Linked DNA regions of Homo sapiens: regions 1 and 2 are each linked to region 3. The links come from fine-mapping of genetic effects on gene expression. A gene starts in region 3. Each other region holds a variant in brackets. All regions are shown on one strand. Distances are from middle to middle. Region 1 overlaps MAP3K14 (mitogen-activated protein kinase kinase kinase 14). Region 2 overlaps SPATA32 (spermatogenesis associated 32). Region 3 holds the start of FMNL1-DT (FMNL1 divergent transcript).

The links. PIP is the estimated chance that this variant, and not a neighbour inherited with it, causes the effect.
Region 1: its variant is the best candidate, but not a certain one, in a credible set for the expression of FMNL1-DT in whole blood (TOPMed, PIP 0.58).
Region 2: its variant is the best candidate, but not a certain one, in a credible set for the expression of FMNL1-DT in whole blood (INTERVAL, PIP 0.64).

Annotation. Positions count from the first base shown.
Region 1 is chr17:45,273,047-45,279,326 of GRCh38, reverse strand. MAP3K14 (mitogen-activated protein kinase kinase kinase 14) reads left to right here. Exons shown (of 16, transcript NM_003954.5): 7 at 4,734-4,863; 8 at 5,073-5,204; 9 at 5,720-5,824. Among named protein-coding and RNA genes, the nearest start is that of SPATA32, 14 kb to the right of the region's middle. RefSeq lists an enhancer at 5,360-6,280. The variant G/T (reference allele first, on the strand shown) is at 3,123.
Region 2 is chr17:45,253,657-45,259,936 of GRCh38, reverse strand. SPATA32 (spermatogenesis associated 32) reads left to right here. Exons shown (of 5, transcript NM_152343.3): 2 at 2,730-2,784; 3 at 3,522-3,561; 4 at 3,864-4,822; 5 at 5,424-5,544. The coding sequence ends at 5,511. It overlaps MAP3K14-AS1 (MAP3K14 antisense RNA 1), which reads right to left. Exons shown (of 4, transcript NR_110326.1): 2 at 4,719-4,802. Among named protein-coding and RNA genes, the nearest start is that of SPATA32, 5.3 kb to the left of the region's middle. RefSeq lists an enhancer at 3,275-4,035. The variant A/G (reference allele first, on the strand shown) is at 2,651.
Region 3 is chr17:45,218,725-45,225,004 of GRCh38, reverse strand. FMNL1-DT (FMNL1 divergent transcript) reads left to right here and starts at 3,240. Exons shown (of 3, transcript NR_147507.1): 1 at 3,240-3,656; 2 at 4,551-4,737. It overlaps FMNL1 (formin like 1), which reads right to left and starts at 3,120. Exons shown (of 27, transcript NM_005892.4): 1 at 2,752-3,120. The coding sequence starts at 2,880. RefSeq lists enhancers at 526-575, 1,176-1,245, 1,581-2,081, 2,082-2,582 and silencers at 2,429-2,723, 2,646-2,755, 3,036-3,085, 3,096-3,545.

The DNA.
Region 1 (6,280 bases), 54 kb before region 3:
GGAGAAACCCCATCTCTATTAAAAATACAAAAAGCCGGGCGTGGTGGCGCATGCCTGTAATCTCAGCTACTCAGGAGGCTGAAGCAGGAGAATCGCTTGAACCCAGGAGGCGGAGGTTGCGGTGAGCCGAGATCACGCCATTGCACTCCAGCCCGGGCAACAAGAGCGAAACTCCGTTTCAAAAAAAAGAATACCAAAGAAAACAAGAGGGAAGTTCAAGGAGGAAAAAGTGATCCCCAGTGTTCAGTGTGCAGGCAATTGAGGGGAAGGAAGTGGCTTCTGTATCAGGCAGTAGGCTCATTGCTGACAGTGCTTCCACCTGGGGATGCTCAGTCCTAAGTGTATTTTAAAACATTAGCATGGATGCCAGGCACAGTGGCTCACACTTGTAATCTCAACATGTTGGAGGCCGAGGTGGGAGAATCACTTGAGCCTAGGAGTTCAAGACTAGCCTGGGCAATATGGCGAAACCCCATCTCTACAAAAATTAGCTGGGCATGGCACCTATAGTCTCAGCTACTTGGGAGGCTGAGATGGGAGGATCGCTTGAGCCCGGGAAGGTCGAGGCTGCAGTGAGCTGTGATTGTGCCACTGCACTCCAGCCTGGCCAACCAAGGGAGACCTTGTCTCAAAAAAAAAAAAAAAAAGTTCAGCATGGAAAGGCCTTCAGGAGGCAGAGTAGCTGGCAGCTCTGGAGTCAGGCTTGCCCGAGTAAAAGCGCTGCTGTGATCTCTTATACCCAGTGACCTTGGGCAAATTACTTGCCCAGGCTTCAGCTTCTTCATCTATAAAATGGGGATAATGATCCCACCAGCTTACAGGCTATTGTAAGATCTGAATAACTAATGCTTAGAAAGGGCTTTACCGGTGCCTGGGAAATGATAAGTGGGCATTAGATCTTAGTTCTCATGAATATCCTCATCGCAGTCCAGCCCCCTCATTTTACGGATGAGGAACACGGAAGTTCAGAGAGGAGGGGTGGCCAGACGGGCAGCCAGCTTGGCCTGGAAGGCTGGGCTGCTTTCTCCTCTGGCACCGACTTCTAAAGCACCTTGTATTTTGAAGTATCTCCTCCCACCTCTTTGGTCTGGGTGGTTGGAAATATTTTTAGCATGGACGGGACACTCTAAGAGGACTTACAGATTTCTGCAAAGTTAAAGCCAAGTTTCCCCAACTCTTTTGGATCACAGCCCTGTTAATATCTCAGTCATTGTTTCAGGGCAACCCAGGCCAAAACAAATACCCAACAGTTCTGTTTATGAAGCAGTGAGGTCGAATAATAAGTCTTTATCCTAACAACTTAGTAGCCATTTGAAAAGCGTGACATAAGTTGAAAGAAAAAGGGTCCTTCCATTTCCAAACCGCCAGATTATTAACGGGATGTATGCCTTGTTGCACATCTCAACCCTTGAAATCAGATAGGACACCACCACCTTCATATCCCACATTTTCTCCTTGAAGTACTTTTAATCACAGTGACCTGCAAAAACATAGCTTCATAGAGATACATTATCAAAGGGAATGTCACGTGCGTGATCGTACTTTGAAGCTGAACTGTCTCGAGCGAGTAGTTCACGCGGTGTCCTGCAGATACTGCGGTGGCCGTTTCCCTCAAATGTCAGATATCCATTTGGCGCCCTTCTGAGTTATCTGCAGTGCCCCGGGGTGCCTCAGCTCAGTTTGGGGGTGGTTAGGCTGAAGACATTTGCTAACAAGTCCTGTTGTTGAATTAGTTCCAACTCAGGTTCAGAGGCTTTTTAGAGCTGGAAACACTGGCAGAGTCAAAGTTCATGGGAGGTGATTAACCAAACCAGATATTAGGGAACCAGAAGGGCGACATTTTCCACTGATAGGCAAAAGTCCAAAAACCCCACAGTGTCAGGGCTGTTTGCCAAGTCAGCAAGTCTGTGAAGATCGCTTCCAAGCTGGTTCTGTTACTGCCAGCGCCCCCTGGCGATGCTACTCAAGGCTTACTTGAGAACCATCAGCAGCTAGGAAGGAGGACAAGTCTACTAAGCGGGGAGGGGGGAGGAATAGCATTAGGAGATATACCTAATGCTAAATGACAAGTTAATGGGTGCAGCACACCAACATGGCACATGTATACATATGTAACAAACCTGCACATTGTGCACATGTACCCTAAAACTTAAAGTATAATAATAAATAAAATTAAAAAAAAGAAGAAGAAGCCTAAGAGGCCGTGCGCAGTGGCTCACGCCTGTAATCCCAGCACTTTGGGAGGCTGAGGTGGGCGGATCATGAGGCCAGGAGTTCAAGACCAGCCTGGCCAACGTGGTGAAACTCTGTCTCTACTAAAAATACAAAAATTAGCTGGATGTGGTGGCACGTGCCTGTAATCCCAGCTACTCAGGAGGCTGAGGCACAAGAATCGCTTGAACCCAGGAGGCGGAGGTTGCAGTGAGCTGAGATATCACACCACTGCACTCCAGCCTGGTGACAGAGCGAGACTCTGTCTCAAAAAAAAAAAAAAAAAAAAAAAGAAGTCTAAGAGGCCGGGCACAGTGGCTCACGCCTGTAATCCCAGCACTTTGGGAGGCCAAGGTAGGCGGATCACCTGAGGTCAGGAGTTTAAGACCAGCCTGACCAACATGGTGAAACCCTGCCTCTACTAAAAATATGAAAAATTAGCTGTGCATAGTGGCAGGTGCCTGTAATCCCAGCTACTGGGGAGGCTGAGGCAGGAGAATTGCTTGAACCCAGGAGGCGGAGGTTGTAATTAGCTGAGATTGCGCCACTGCACTCCAGCCTGGGCGACACAGCGAGACTCTGTCTCAAAAAAAAAAAAGGTCTAAGTCAGTCTAAGTATCAGCTTCTCTGATGTGAGCTGGAGGAATTGGGGAGCTAGCACTTCCTGAGTGCCCACTGGTTGCCAGGCCTGGTGTCAGTTACCATCCTTCCAAATCCTTGCTCTACCCAGGAGCAGATACCACCGTCCCTGCTGTTTGCATGTGGAAATATGTGGATGGGAAGTCTGCTGCCTTGTTTTAAAAGGCGGAGCCAGGATCTAAGCCCAAGATGTTTATATCCAAGGCCTATTTCCTCCCACCAAGTTGCTGGTCCCTGCAGAAAGGAGTGGATGATCCCGGACCTGCCATTTG[G/T]CAGTGGGAGTGGCCTTGGCCACTCCCCAGAAGCCTCCTCAGAAGCCTCCTTAAGTTCCCAGATGCTGGGAGACAGCTGCAAACAGAATAAACACTGCTCTGTCTATGTGGATGTTTTAGTCCTCCGGGAAAGAAAAGTGTTGAGGCCGGGCATGGTGGCTCACGCCTGTAATCCTAGCACTTTGGGAGGCCAACGCAGGCAAATCACAAGGTTAGGAGTTTGAGACCAGCCTGGCCAGCATGGTGAAACCCCGTCTCTACTAAAAAATACAAAAATTATCTGGGCCTGGTGGCGCACACTTGTAGTCCCAGCTACTCGGGAGGCTGAGGCAGGAGAATTGCTTGAACCCGGGAGGCAGAGGTTGCAATGAATAGAGATCACGTCACTGTACTCCAGCCTGGGCGACAGAGCAAGACCTCTGTCTCAAAAAAAAAAAAAAAAAAGAAAAGAAAAGAAAAAAAAATGCACCCGATGGAGTCCAAATCTTGGTTCTTGACAGTCAGATAAGTCAAAAACCCAGCTTCTGAGAGTAGACATGGATGTTGATAAGCAAAAGGTCCCACATCCTAGAAATTGCCCAGAAATTTAGCTGGAGGAAAAAATGTTCTGCGTTTGGCAGATTTGAGGGCGGACAGCGTGCCAGCAGCCAGGATGACGAATGTAGGGGGTTTTTTGTTTTTTTGTTTGTTTTTTTGTGGGTTTTTTTTTGTTTTTTTTTTTTGAGATGGAGTCTCACTCTGTCGCCAGACTGGAGCGCAGTGGTGCGACCTCGGCTTATTGCGACCTTGGCTCATTGCAACCTCCGACTCCCAGGTTCAAGTGATTCTCCTGCCTCAGCCTCCCAAGTAGCTGGGATTACAGCCACGTGCCACCACACCCAGCTAATTTTTGTATTTTTAGTAGAGACAGGGTTTCGCCATGTTGGCCAAGATGGTCTTGATCTCCCGACCTCGATCTCCTTGATCCACCCGCCTCAGCCTCCCAAAGTGCTGAGATTACAGCCATGAGCCACCGCGCCCGGCTGGAATGTAGTGTTTTGTTTTGTTTTTTTAATTTTTTTTTTTTGAGACGGAGTCTCACTTTGTTGCCCAGGCTGGAGTGCACTGGCGCAATCTCAGCTCACTGCAAGCTCCGCCTCCTGGGTTCACGCCATTCTCCTGCCTCAGCCTCCCGAGTAGCTGGGACTACAGGCACCCGCCGCCACGCCCAGCTAATTTTTTTGTATTTTTTAGTAGAGACGGGGTTTCACTGTGTTAGCCAGGATGGTCTCGATCTCCTGACCTCGTGATCCACCCGCCTCGGCCTCCCAAAGTGCTGGGATTATAGGCATGAGCCACTGCGCCCGGTGCGGATGTAGTTTTTATGTGGCTGTTTTTGCACACAGGCAGCACTCCAGAACTTTAATTAAGTACAAGAAGTTGCTCCTGATACCAAGGGCACGGGATACACAATTTAGCCTCTGAGGGTCCAGCAGGCCCCCCAGGCCCCTGCATCACCACTGGAAACAGCAGCAGCCTCTGTGTGTGGAGCACTAGGGTGCTGACAGGATGCCAGGGACCCAGCTCTGGTCCCCTCACCCTGTCTTAACAGCTGCCTCTGGGCCCTTGCAGGTGCGGCTGGAAGTATTTCGGGCAGAGGAGCTGATGGCATGTGCAGGATTGACCTCACCCAGAATTGTCCCTTTGTATGGAGCTGTGAGAGAAGGGCCTTGGGTCAACATCTTCATGGAGCTGCTGGAAGGTAAGGAGCCAGGTCCCACTCTTTCTCCAAATTCAGGGCCAAGAGTTCCCCCCTGAGTCTTGCCCAAGTTGGCCTTGGTCACTGATCTATCCATTGTTAACCTCTTGACCCTGTGACCCTGCTTTCCACTGCCTGCCCTGTGCTCTTGCCCTTGGCTGGCATGGAGGCTCGGGCAAGTCCCATGTATAGCCTGGCCTTTGGTCTCCTAGGTGGCTCCCTGGGCCAGCTGGTCAAGGAGCAGGGCTGTCTCCCAGAGGACCGGGCCCTGTACTACCTGGGCCAGGCCCTGGAGGGTCTGGAATACCTCCACTCACGAAGGATTCTGCATGGGGACGTCAAAGGTAAGGCCCAGGCCCCACGGCCCTGATCCCCAGCAGGCTCTTCTCTCACACCATCCTGTCTGATCTCCTCTCAGTTCTGGGCTAGCCTGGTCATCCCCAGTAGCAGGCCCTGAGTCAGGCTGACAGGACTGTGCCTGTAGGAAGGGGAATGATGTTCTCCAACCCCTTAGCCAAGCACTGTAGTTTCTGGTAGACGGTGGCCACAGAGAACCGAAGGTCAAGCTCCCACCCACTGGTGACCCCTGGTATGGGGTCGGCGCAGGCGAGCAGAGTGGCAGCGTTCCCGAGTAAACCCTGCTCCTGTCCCTTTGCCCTCAGAGATCCTGCCTACCTCTAGCCTGAATTGATACCCTCCTCCCTTCCTCCACGATTAATGAAACTAATCAGAAGCAGCAGCTGCCACGTAGGGTCAGCCAGAAAATTACATCACTGGAGGGCAGGCCAAACCGAGCCAGGGTGGGCTGGGACCCGGCATGACTCACCTGTTCCTCTTCCTCCCCGGGGCGGCCTGGCAGCTGACAACGTGCTCCTGTCCAGCGATGGGAGCCACGCAGCCCTCTGTGACTTTGGCCATGCTGTGTGTCTTCAACCTGATGGCCTGGGAAAGTCCTTGCTCACAGGTAAGGCCCCCCACCAACTGCCGTGCCCCCCAATGCATTCATTCGCCAAATGCCTTCCATGCTTTCCAGAATGGGAATTGAGGTGTGAACACTTAGGTCCACCTGTGTGTTTAAGCCCCGCAACCAGCCTGGATGATTATCAGGGGTTTCTTTGTTACGCGTAAATGTGATAATAGATGTCAGGTGCTCATTGTCGATGCTCCTGTACACAGGGAAGAGAAGGGAAAGGCTGGTTGACTCTCCGTAGGTCCCAGGCCTTCTGCCTTGGAGTCCCCGTGGCTCCTACCTCTTGTCTGGCCTTTGCAGGGGAGTGCACTGCCAGCCTGTGACCCCAGCTCTCCTGCGCCTCTGAGCACGGTTGGCTGGAAGCACAGTGGGCAGGCTGACCAAGGGGCCTGGGCTCTAAAGTCAGTGAAATATCTTTCTTTAACTCCTCTGATTATTGAAATAATCCAT
Region 2 (6,280 bases), 35 kb before region 3:
AAATTCTGAAAAAAAGCCAATCAGATTCAACAACATAGAAAAAGGGTAATATATCACAACCAAATGAGGTTTATCCCAGTAACGCAAGGCTGATTTAACATTTTAAAAAATAAATTTATAGCTGGGCATGGTAGCTCACACCTATAATCTAGCACTTTGGGAGGCCACGGCAGGTGGATAGCTTGAGCCCAGGAGTTCAAGACCAGCCTGGGCAATATAACAAGACCCATCTCTACAAAAAATACAAAAATTAGCTGGGGGTGGTGGTGAACACGTGTAGTCCCAGCTACTCCAGAGGTGAGGTGGAAGGATCACTTGAGACAGGGAGGTTGAGGTTGCTGAAATTGCGCCACTGAACTCCAGCCTGGGCAACAGAGTGAGACCCTGTCTCAAAAAAAACAATGTATTTTACCATAAACAGAATATAAAAATATAAAAGAATTATCACTCAAATAATATAACATTACTCATATGTTAATGTATTATAACGTATGTTATGTATAACATATATAATATCATATTAAAGAAAAACCATATGATCATCTCAATAAATGCAGAAAAAGCATTAGGCAAAATCCAGCATCCATTCCTAATTAAAACTAAGCAATCTAAGAGACGAAACTTCACAAAGATGCCCAAGCTAATGAAAGGCATCATGAAGAAACCTACAGCTAGCATCATCCTTAATGGTGAAAGGCTAAACACTTTCCCCTAAGCTCAGAACGAAGCGAGGATGTACACACGCACTCCTACTCAACATTGTATGGAGATTGTCCCCAGTGCAATTAGGCAAGTAAAGAAAATAAGAGGAACCAGATTGGGAGGGAAGAAGTAAAAGTGTCTTGACTCACACACATTATTGTCTATGTAGAAAATCCGATAGAATCTAAAAGAAAAAAAAAGCTATGAGAACAAATAAGATTTTAGTATAGTTGCAGGATACAAAAGATGGATATATTTCTGTATACTAGCAACAAACCACTGGAAATTGAAATTATTTCGGCCAGGCACGGTGGCTCATGCCTGTAATCCCAGCACTTTGGGAGGCCGAGGCAGGCAGATCATTTGAGGCCAGGAGTTTGAGATCAGCCTGGCCAAAATGGTGAAACCCCATCTCTACTAAAAATACAAAAAGTGAGCTGGGCGTCGTGGCGCATGCCTATAATCCCAGCTGCTCAGGAGGCTGAGTCAGGAGAATCGCTTGATCTCAGGAGGCGGAGGTTACAGTGAGCCGAGATCACACCACTACACTCCAGCGTGGGTGACAGAGTGAGACCCTGCCTCAAAAAAAATTATTTCAATTATTTCATATACTGCAGAATATCACTTGAATCCCTAATAGAACATTCTCAAGTCAGGCAACGAGGTCCCAAGCTGAGTCAATGTCTGACTTTTTCTCCCAGCCCCCAGTGCTGTTAAGAGGCTCACACAACAGTAATTTCTTCTCCTGTCCATACCCAGCTGCCGTTTATGGAGGGGTTGAGGCTGTGGGTGTTGATTAAACTGCCCAGGGAAATTCTGTAAAGGGAGCAAAGGCCCTGAGGTCAGAAGCCTGGGGGAACAGCAGGACCTGGGACAGGGGGAGTTGGAGAGGGAGAAGAGAGACACGTGAGGAAGCCAGGGAAGCATAGTGGTCAAGGAGGTGGAGGGTTCTGAAGAGATCATTGAGCCGGCCACTCTGCTGATACATCCCCCAAGACCAGGCTGAAGCAGATGGTCCCAATCCCAAGACCAGCCATGCAAGGACCCCTCCCTCCAGCCACTACATCTCTAGGAAGAGACCGCAGTACATTCTCATCCTTCCAATATGATCCTGGGAGCGATTCTTCCCAGCCAGAGCCAGGGCTGTCACTTCCTGCCATACCCCAGGCTGATGGGGACCCACCTTGCATGATGGCAGGGTTGTCATGATGGCCCCACCATCAACCCCTATGCATGGCCCTGGGTAGCAGAGAACAGGGCAGCCTGGTGCTTCCCACTCCCACAGGGTGAAGAAACAGCTTCTGCAGTAAAAGATACAAGCCTCCAGGGAGGGGTTTGGGGTTGCGGACGTTCCCAAGGAGTCAGTCTCCCCTGCAGAGGGTGATCTGAGCTCATAAATCGTCGGATAGGTGCTAGCACCACCTCAGATTACACACCTGGGGTGCAGGCCTTGGCCTGGAGTCAGTGATGGATGACCCAGAGAGAGGAGAGGAAGCCGGCAGAGGAGCAGGAATGGGGAGATGGGGGAGGTTCACATGGGGCGTTATTGGGACTCCACGCAGTTACAGGGTCCTGGGAGTAGCCGGTGGGGGCAGGGAGTTAAGAGTTTCCTGAGTCAAGCCTGCATTCAAGTCATCACTTCAGCTATGTTCAGCTGGGGGACCTTGGGCAAATGGACCTGTCCTAATTTTTTGTGTTGAATCAGTGAGATAAAGCAGGTAAAGTGACCAGGCTATGGAAGCGCTCTGTCATGTTCAGGGTACTGTTAGCAGTCACGGTTTTGGGGGATGGAGATGGAACCGGGAGCCTCCGAGGAGGCAAGGCACAGACGGAGAGTGGAGGGAGCAGGACTGGAGGATAGGAATGGCGACCGGCTCGGGAACAAGGAGAGCGGGGCAGGACGGTGAGGGGGAATAGCAGCCGGGAAGAGAGAAAAGAAGGGCAGGAA[A/G]AGGGGGCTGGCTCCGGAATCCCTCTGGGACTGTCCTCTACCCTGCAGCTCCCTGCCCTCACCTCCTTTCCCCTGTCAGGTGCCCATGGATTTCCATGCTGCGGCAAAGGGTCAGTGGAGGTTGCAGAGATGCGGTGAGAACCATCCTCAATCAACGTAGGGCCTCCCCCGAGCCCTCCAGGACCTCCGACCTCACCCCCAGCCTAGGATCCCCCAGCCTAGGATCTCCCTCCCTTCTGCCATTTCCAAAACCTCCCCGGGGCCAGTGTCCAGGCCAAAAGGCTGGGGAGGGCGTGGGGCGCCTATCCTCCCACTTCTGTTTATGCCCTCAGCCCCTGGCATGAGAGGAAGACTGAGGGGTGGTGGGGCACACCCAGGGACAGGATAGGACCTGACCCCTCAGAGCTGCCTGGCTTGCTGAGGACAGAGCTGCTCAAGGCGGGGGTGGGCAGGCACTTGAAGAAAGAGTGGGCAGGTGGGTGGGAGGACATTGCTCTGGGGCTCCCCTGCTGGGGACTAGTGTTCTGGGCACTAATCCTCGAAGTGAGTTGCCCCAGCTCACCTGCAGTGCTTGATAAAAATGAGATTCCTGGGCCTTACCTCCAACCAACTGGATTCCTCTTTGGGGGTGGGGCATGAGTTGGCAAGCAGCTTCCTAAACTCACTAAAGTTTCAGAATACAACCGCAGACTTCCTGGTGGCAGTGGAGTGGGACAGCAGGGGAGTGGATGAGCTGGTGGCGGGGTGGTCGGCGGGAGGTGCATCGTGCCAGCTTCTGTTACAAGGCAGAGGGCTTTGAGGGCCCCAGAAACCCCCTTCCCGCTGAAGCCCCACAGATCCCCATCACCCACTCTGTCTTCTTCTGTCTTAGAGATGACTTAAGTCAACACCAGATACAAGAGGAACAGGAGGTAAAAATGGGAGTGTCCTCTTACGGGGAGGTGGTAGGCAAGCGGCAGGGCTCTTCCCTAAGTCCCCACCAGCCCCTACCCTTGACAATCCTGGGACCCTAGTACCAGGCCGGTGTGGGTACACCCACACACACACCCCCTCACCGGGCAGGTCTCTGAGAGGAGGCAGGCATGGGGTTAGGGGGCGGGGGGAAGACAGCAGGACCCAGGGCAGGGGTGGGGCAGGGACTCGGTGCCAGGGAGGGCCTCAGGGGCAGGACCTCCCGCTCCTGCCTCCTCAGCTTTGAGTTGAAACATTTCAGCTGGAGGCAGACATGCTAGAGCAGAAGCCCCAACTCCAAGTGGACCTGGACCTGGACCCAGACCCAGACCCAGACCCAGAACTGGAGATCGGACAGGTGCCGGCTTTACTGGAGTCAGAGCTATACCCAGCCCTCAAGCTTGAAGCTGAGCTGGACACGGAAGCCAACTCGAACGAGGAGTCTGACTTTGAAGAACCCATGCAGCTGGTATGCAAGATAGAGTCCGTCCACTCCAACATGGGGCTGCCCACGCCACAGACCTTCAGACCGTGGAGTCTGAATTCAAACTGCCGGAGTTTCACGGAGGAGAACCACGTGTCTGCCTGCCATCACTCCATCAGTGCGCAGACCTCCAAGCACCTCTTCTGGGCAAACAAGCTCATCCAGGCCTCAGAGCACAGCCTGCAGCGGGCCATCAACATGCAGCTCAACAATGGCAGCGCAGGCCAGCCCATCAGATCCCCGCTCCGGGAGGCCATCCCCACCAACGCCCTGTGCTCCGAGGAGCAGCTCCAGATCCCTGATGCCCACTCAGCTCCTCCAACCACAAGCTCCCAGGCACCAAGCCCCCTCCTGTCCTCAGATCTCCCGCCACCCATTGACCTGACAGAGCTAATCACCTTTGCATCTTCCCTGGCCATGGCCTCCTCCAGCAGGATGGACCTGCCCAGTTTGGAACACATGATGAAAGCTCCACCCCAGGAGGCTCTGGAGCCTTCCACAGAGCCCCTCCTGACCACTGTGGAGGAGCGAGAGCCAGAAAATCACGCAGAGACCCTGCCAGAGAAACCACGCGAAGCCAGAGCACCACTGAAATCTTGGAGTCAGGAAGACAAGAACTTCGCTCAATCTTACTTTGACTTCAGCAAGCCGGGGATCAAGAGGGCCACCATCAAAGGGCAAATCCAGCTTCTCCAGCCACCAGCCACGTCCCCTCTGCTGCAGGGAAGCAAGGAAGAGTGAGTGAGGCCAGCCCCGCAGCTCCCATAGAGGGGCTGTGCTAGAACGTGGCAGGGGTCCTCACACAGCTGGGTAGGGGTGGGGAACAGTGGAATGAGGGCCTGGGAGCAGGATGTGGTGGGCTGTGACGCCTCCACCTCAGTGACCTCATAAAGGCTGTTGGAACGAGGTTCCAGTGGACTGAGGCGCAGAGCCAAGGCGAGGGCTGGAGGAGGCCTGGGGACCAAGGAGGGTGGGCACAGGGGCCTGGGTTCAAAATGGGAAGGACCACACTGGCATTAGGCGGCTTTCCACCCTGGGGGTCGGGCCTCACCAAGGTTGGGAATGCTCAGGCTGGGGTCTGCCCTGTTGAAAGCCTGTTGGCCCCAACCCTGGGGTCCAGGACACTTTTCTTGAGGGGAGAATGAGGGTGCAGGGCTCTCCAGTACACCTTGCTTTCTGGTAGTGAATGGACACAGAATGTAATCTCAGCTGCCCAGACGCGGGCAGCAGCAGAAGACCCCTTACCCCCAGCGACCTCTTCAGAGGGGCCTCTGGGCTCACCCCTCTCCTTCAACCACCCTCTGGGGCCCAAGTGACACTCTCTCTTTTGTGTTGCAGCTCAGTGCCGCCAGGAAAAGAGAAAGAGAATCCATTATTGGTGAAAATCCATTTTAAGCTGTCAGCCCCCACAATCCCAGAGAAATGACTAGACAGAACCAATAAAGCCTCCAGTGCTGGCCGTCGGCTTAGACTTTTGTGCAAATGCCCCTGGGCCAGGGAGCCCTCCTGGCTGCTGTGTCCTCGTCTGTTTTTTAGGGATGCCACCCCATTTTTTAGCTGCCCCAGCTCCACCTGCCCCCAGAGGGCAATGCCACCCTTGTCCTGGCCACCCATCTCTCACCTGCCCACTCCCCAGGGTCAATTCCCTTCACTCCCTCCTGGCCAGCCCTCTAGGCCAGCAGAAAGACTTGTGGCTGGTCTTGGGGAGACCTCGGTGTCCTGTGAGGCTTCCATTTCTTAGACTGTGAAATGAGGCTTCCTCTTGGCCTGAGGCCAGGGATGTGTTGGGATCATCTGAGGAGATGGCCTTCTGGGCGTGGACTGGGCAGGTGAGAAAGTGGGTCTGAGGGGGTTCTTCCTGCGCTCTTCATGGGGAAGAGCTGGCATGGGGAAGGGATGGTGTCCAGGAGCTTGAAGGGGAGGAAAATGAGGCCGAAGAACTGGTCCTCCAGAGGGTCACAGGCTGGAGCTAGACGTACCTCCAAATGCAGGAGAGCCATAGATCACCCAGACATGTGCACACAGACACCACCAGCTGCCCGGCACATCACACATACAGCACCCACACACAGAGGAAGCAGCACATGCCACACATGCCCATGTACACATGTGCCTGTGACAGTCGCATGTACCAAACATGCACACAAAGCCGGGTGTGGTGTCTCACGCCTGTAATCCCAGCACTTTGGGAGGCA
Region 3 (6,280 bases):
GAAAGGTCGCCTTGTCATCCCAGTCCCTGACCCTGCGTGCCTCCCAGGGGAAGGCATGAAGGGGCTGGAAGACACCCAGCCTTGGGCATGGGCGTAGGAGAGGCGAGAGCTTGGCGCCCCGCTGGCTGGTGTTCCCACCATCACAGCAGGCCCGTGGGGCTGGGCAGCCATCGCTCCTCTGCTGTTGCTAAGGCAGCAGCCGGAAACCCTGGCTCAACCTGCTCTTTCTCTCCACCCCCATTTTAAGCAGGGGGCACCCCTTTCTTTCACAGCTTTCTTGGAAAGGTAGCCCCCCACCACCCACCCTTGCATGGGAGAAGGGCTCCCTGCACCTCCTGTCTGGCTGTAAGTGGGGACACCCCTCACCCACAAGAGAGGTCCTACAGCCAGGAGAGGAAGGAGAGTTTGGGGTATCAGGATCCTATGCCCCACCAGGGACAAAAGGGGAAGGAAGAGGTTCCCTGGGGCCGCTGGACTACATCCCTGAGGGCAGGACTGTGCTTCTCCCATTGAGACTGGGGACCACTGATGGCGGTGGGCCCCTCCCCTCAGCAATCTAAGGTTCTTCTCCTCTTAGACACTGACCGAGGACAGGACTCAGCTCTGGCCATGGTGGTTCGGGTGGGGGTTCACATAGCGACCAACTCTGCGATACACACTGCCAGACCTGAGGGTTGAACCAACTCTTTAGCCCTGGGCAGCCTCAGGCAGAGGTCAAGGTTGTCACCCTGGGGCAAGCCTCATGCCCCTGCTGGTGGGGAATGAGAGGAACCAGGGTCTTAGCCAAGTGTCCTTAGATTGGGTTTAACCTGCCCACAACAGGATATAAGACAGGCTGAGCCACCCCGGGAAGAAGGTATAAACACACTGGGGTTCCTGGGCACCTGGTAGGGGGTAAGCCCTGGTGGGTGCTGCTACCCTAAATTTCTGCTAGGCACCTCCACTTTCTCCACCAGCACACCCTCTCTGACCCACCTGTGGGTGTCCCCCCTCCACATCCTGGTACTCAGGGACTCCCAGTGGCATTTAGTGTCAGACTCAGCCAATCACAGCCACAAATCCAAGCAGGGCAAACAAGTCCTACACACACATCAGAACCTCACCATTTGACTTGTGGATTTTCCCCTGGTCTGAATTATTCACAGGGCTCCTCCCCATCAGCGTGCTAAACAGAAGATTGGGGTCAGGACCTCACCCCAAGAGCCCACACCCGCGACCATAGACACACACTTGGCGGAAAGACAGACCCATGTCCCTCCAACCAGGTTGGCAGGGGTCCAAGGACCCACCACCAATGCAGGCTCTCCAGATGGCCCCCAGAGACTGTGTCTCCTCATTCTCCCCCCTCCCCCATCTGCTCAGCTCAGCTCAGCTTTGTGAAGTCCTATGCTTGGGGAGCGGGGAGCAGGGCAGGTGGAGAGATGGAGAAGTCAGGGGCCAGCCTGGTGTGAGGCGTCCCTCAGTGTCCCTGCCCTCCTCTAATCAAGCAAGGTGTCTTCACAAGGATGGATCCCTCGCCACCCCATAGCTCCTCCAAACTCCCCCCAGCCTTCTCTTGGGAGAGGACAGAAGCCAACATTTTCAGGAACTGTTAGGAGGTGACCCTCTGGAGCCATGCTGAGGATCTAGCACGTATGGCCTAATGACCAGCCAGGCGAGGGGAAATGATGTCAAGGAGATGGAGGGCCACCAACTGAGCCAGAACCCTCTGCGGCCTGTGTCTCCGTTGAGCCCCCACCCTCAGACCTGCAGGGACTGGGAAATGCATCTGGGAGAAGGCACAGCCTCATTTTGCCTGTCACCCAGCGTCCAGCAAGGGAAGGCTGACAGCAGGCAGGCCACCAGGCAATTAGTTAGAGGAGGGAGCCAGGGCCAGGGCGTCGGGGGTGGGGAGAGTGAGAGTGAGCAGCTCTTCCTCTCCCTACTTCTGCCTTATGCAGGGTCTTGGAGACCCCTGAGTCTGCTCTGGAGCCCCCACCCCACTGAACATGTTGACTGTTTCCAGGCTCGGCCTGAGCTGCTGGTTCCCTCCCAGAGACCTATTCCCCAGCGACCCCGCTCCAATTCCCCAGGTAGGCACAGAGGGGGGTGGTTCCAGATTTTGCTCCACCCCTAGCCTGGGCGACCCACCCGTCCTGACCCCACCCTCCCTCATCTTACTCCCTTCAGTGGCTTGGAAAGGATGCCCCAAGATAAAGACCCACAGGCACCCTGGCTCTGACATATGGCGGGGTAGAAACACAGATACCTCCTGGCCATGATCCGACAACCCCATTCCCCGCAGCCCAGGCGCCCAACAAATCAGGACCCAACACCTCCAGCAGGTCTCCCGCTCCCGGGAGGTTGTAACCCTTTCATCTTTGACTCCAGACACAGAAAGGCAGATGCCCCAGACCCGCGCCCGGTGGCTGGGCCTGCGTGCAGTGGGGAAGGGGGCGACCCGGGACCCCTGTGCGTGCCCCGCTCCCAACTTCTTCACAGGACATACTTGTTTAGACCTTAAGACCCAGCTGGGGTGGAGGCGTCTTAGGGAGGGAGACCGGGCGATAACTGAAGAAAGTTTTGGGGGGAGAGTGCTAAGTCACTCTGAAAAAAAGGCCACTGTCGCTCCCACCTCCTGGAGGGGGCAGCTGCCGGACCGGGGATCTCCAAGCGGCACCTGAGTCCCCGGGGGCGGGGACGCGCGCCCAGCCCCTGCCGCGCCCCTGCCGCCCCCCGCCCGCGCCCGACCCGCCTCCGGGTCGCACTCACCAGGGCGCGGTTGAACCTCTCCTCCAGCTCTCCGGCCGCGGGCATCGGCTGCTTGGGAGGCGCGGGCTGCTTGGGGGGCGGCGCGGCGGGGCCCGCGGGCTGCTCGGCGCTGCCGGCCGCGTTGCCCATGGTGGTCCCCACCCAGCCGGCCAGGCGCCTCCAGCCTCGGAAATCCAGCTTTCCGGGGGACGGGGACGAGGCTCCCGGCCCGGGCGGGGGCGAGGGGGCAGCGGCTGGCGGTGGCGGCGGGGGTCTCGGCAGCGGGGGGCGCTCGGCTCAGCGGCGCGCAGGGGCCGGAGCGCGGCGTCCCATCGGGGCGGCCCCGTCCGTGGGACCGGGCGGCGAGCTGCAGGGTTGGGGGAGGAAGTCAGGCTGCAGGCCGCCGGGGCCAGAGGGCTGGGCCGGGGGCAGGAAGCTGCGGCGCTGGCTCCCCCCTCGGCGATTTTCGAACTTCTGCTGTCGCTCCCCGTGCGCGCAAACCGCAGTTCGCCGCCGCCGCCGCCGGGCACCCAGCCCCAGGGGGGCGGGCTGGAGGGAGGGGGCGGGCGCTGGCCGGGGGACCCCCGCAACCATGGCGGGCGGGGAGTGGGCTGCCGAGCCGCTTCACCTGCCGCAGAGGGGGCGGCCGGCGCCGCTTCACCTGCCGGAGCGGGAGGCCACCGAGGCGAGGCCGAGGCGGCGGCGCGCTCGGCGGCGCCTCCGGGTCCTAGAACCGCATCCTCCCGCTCGCCTCGGGCGAGGGATTGGCCGGGTCTGGGTGAAGGGGATCACGGCCTGGGGATTGGAGGGGCACATCTTCTCCGCACCGAGGATCTCAGCGACTGCGAGCACGGCTCGGAGACCCACGGTGGTGCAGCGTTGGGGCGCCAGGGCTGCGTTCCCGTCTCGCGTCCCGGACTGAGAAGGTGGGAACCCCCTTCCAGGCCCCCCACCTTTTATTTCTCTCCTCCCCTGCTTAGCCCAGAGACGAGCTGAGGACGAGGGGGAGCCATCTCCAAACAGGAACTCCTAAACAGGGTGGGGGGCGCGGACGCAGGCCAGTGGAGACCCCCGCCACCTGTCCCACCTCGACCAACCGTGCGCCTGTGCAGGGCACCCCTACAGGTTTTAGAATGGGGGCACCTATGGAATATGGCAGGCTGCGAGAAGCTGGGCCCGCCAAGGTGGTCCCAAGGAGGAGTGGGGGGTTGCGGAAAGGAGGATGAGAGCCAGCCACAAGGCTGGAAAAGGAGTGGGCACCGCAGAGGAGGGAAAAAGAATCTTGACACTGTCACCGCCAGGGATCTAGGGGGGCCTCTTACCTTGGAGAATAACAATCTCTGATGTCTGCTAATTACAGAAATACTTTCAGAGCTCTTTCATTCATCCTGACAATGGCCAGAGAAGGTAGGTATTGGTAGCCTTATTTTAGAGATGGGGAAACTGAGGCTGAGAGTAGGTAAGTAAGCTGTCCAAGGGCACTCAGCTAACAAAGGACAGAAGCAAGCCTCCTCACTGTCTACCTCCAAAACCTACACTGGCTTGGAGTTGCTGTCCTGGCCCTCCACTGCCCATCTCATGTAGGACGGGAGAGTATGGGGGGCTGGGGTCCCATCTATAGCCTGAATTTGAGACTTTCAGTTGCTCCTCTCATTCCCCATTTAATTTGTGGGGATCCCCAACTGACCCCTCCCTACACTTCCAGGGCACTGAGGAGGGAGGGCCCGCTGAAGGAGCCCCGAATTATCTCTAGGCCAGGTCAGGAGCCATTAGTGTCCCCTCCCCTGACAGCATCCTCCTCCTTCTGCCCTCACATTCAGAGCCACTGACAAGACTTTAAGCAAGAGACGGAGAGTTAACATCTAATCTGGAGGAAGACCCTGGAAGGAGCCAGCCCCTTCCCCCAGGCTGACCTGGTTTAAGCCTTTCTTCTGCCAAGGTCACCAGCACCCCAGATGGGTGAGAGATGTGATCACTGGTTTCGTGGCCTGACCAAGGACCTCCAAGGTGAGTCAAAGCAGAATTCTCCTTGGGCATGCAGGGAAAATGATCCATTCCCTGCACACTGCCATATTCTCCTTCTCAGACAGACCAGAGCCTTGCCCTTGGGTCCTTGCCCTTGAGATTAGCTAGGACCTCCTCCTCTTCTTCTCCTTCTTTCTTCTTCTTCTTGTCTCTATAAGATAACTGTCGTGGAAGACTTTTTTTTTTCTTTTAAGATGGAGTCTCTCGCTGTTGCCCAGGCTGGAGTGCAGTGGCTCGGTCTCAGCTCACTGCAACCTCCACCTCCCAGGTCCAAGCAATTATCCAGTCTCAGCCTCCTCAGTAGCTGGGACCACAGGTGCGTGCCACCACACCCAGCTCATTTTTGTATTTTTAGTAGAGACGGGGTTTTGCTATGTTGACCAAGCTGGTCTCGAACTCCTGACCTCAAGTGATCCGCCTGCCTCGGCCTCCCAAAGTGCTGGGATTACAGGCATGAGGCACCCCGTCCAGCCTGGAAGACTTTTTTTTTTAATGAATAAAAACACATTTTTTTAAAGAATGGATTCCCTGATTCCTCAATGGCTGTCTCTTTCAATTGAACAATAAACCTTTACTTAGCATCAGCTACATGCCCATCACTGTGCTTGGTCCTGCAGATTCTGTGGCAGATGAGAAATGCCTTGGTCCTTGGGCTGCTTGCAGCCTAGCGAGGGACAGACTTTTAACCTCTCTAGGAGAGTGGCTGCTTCAAGTCATCCTATGGGACCAGCTGTTCATGCTTCCTCTTGCCCAGAACTACTTCTGTGAGAGGAAAAGAGAAGGGTAGGAGCGTGCCCTGCAGCTGGAAACCCAAGCCAGGCGGGGAGCCACGAATGCAGTAGTTATCAGACTGTATCTTCAATCCTGGGGGCTTCTCAAGCCATTGCCAGCCACTCTTCACCCAAGGCCTGGTGGAATAAAGCTGGGCTAAGTAACACCTCTTCTGTGGAAAATTATTGTTTCTGCAAGCCTATATTCATTCTCCCTCTCTCTCATGCTGATCAGAACTGTGAGTTACAAAAAAAATGAGAAGATGGAATCAATTATTACGTAGTAAATTTCATTTGCTTGGCAGGAGGTATCTTTCCCATCTTGGCCCACAGAGGAGGAAATCCTAGAAGGGATGACTGAAGCTTGGGACTAACACATTGGTGGATCTGTGCTACCCCCTGCTGGCCGTAGACGGTATGACAGCCAAGATAGGGCAAGGCTTCGAGGGGCGATGGATGGATTCACCGCAGCGGCGACATTTCTGGACTGTTGTCACCTTCAGTGCAGTCACTGGGAATATTCAGAACCCAGGTGATTGATAAGGTTTTCCCAGGGATCTCTTCTCTCCCCTTCACCATTACTCAGTAGGAGCTTCCTTAAAAACGGAAAACGAGAGGCCGGGCGCGGTGGCTCACGCCTGTAATCCCAGCACTTTGGGAGGCGGAGGCGGGCGGATCACGAGGTCAGGAGATCGAGACCATCCTGGCTAACACAACCCCGTCTCTACTTAAAATACAAAAAATTAGCCGGGCGT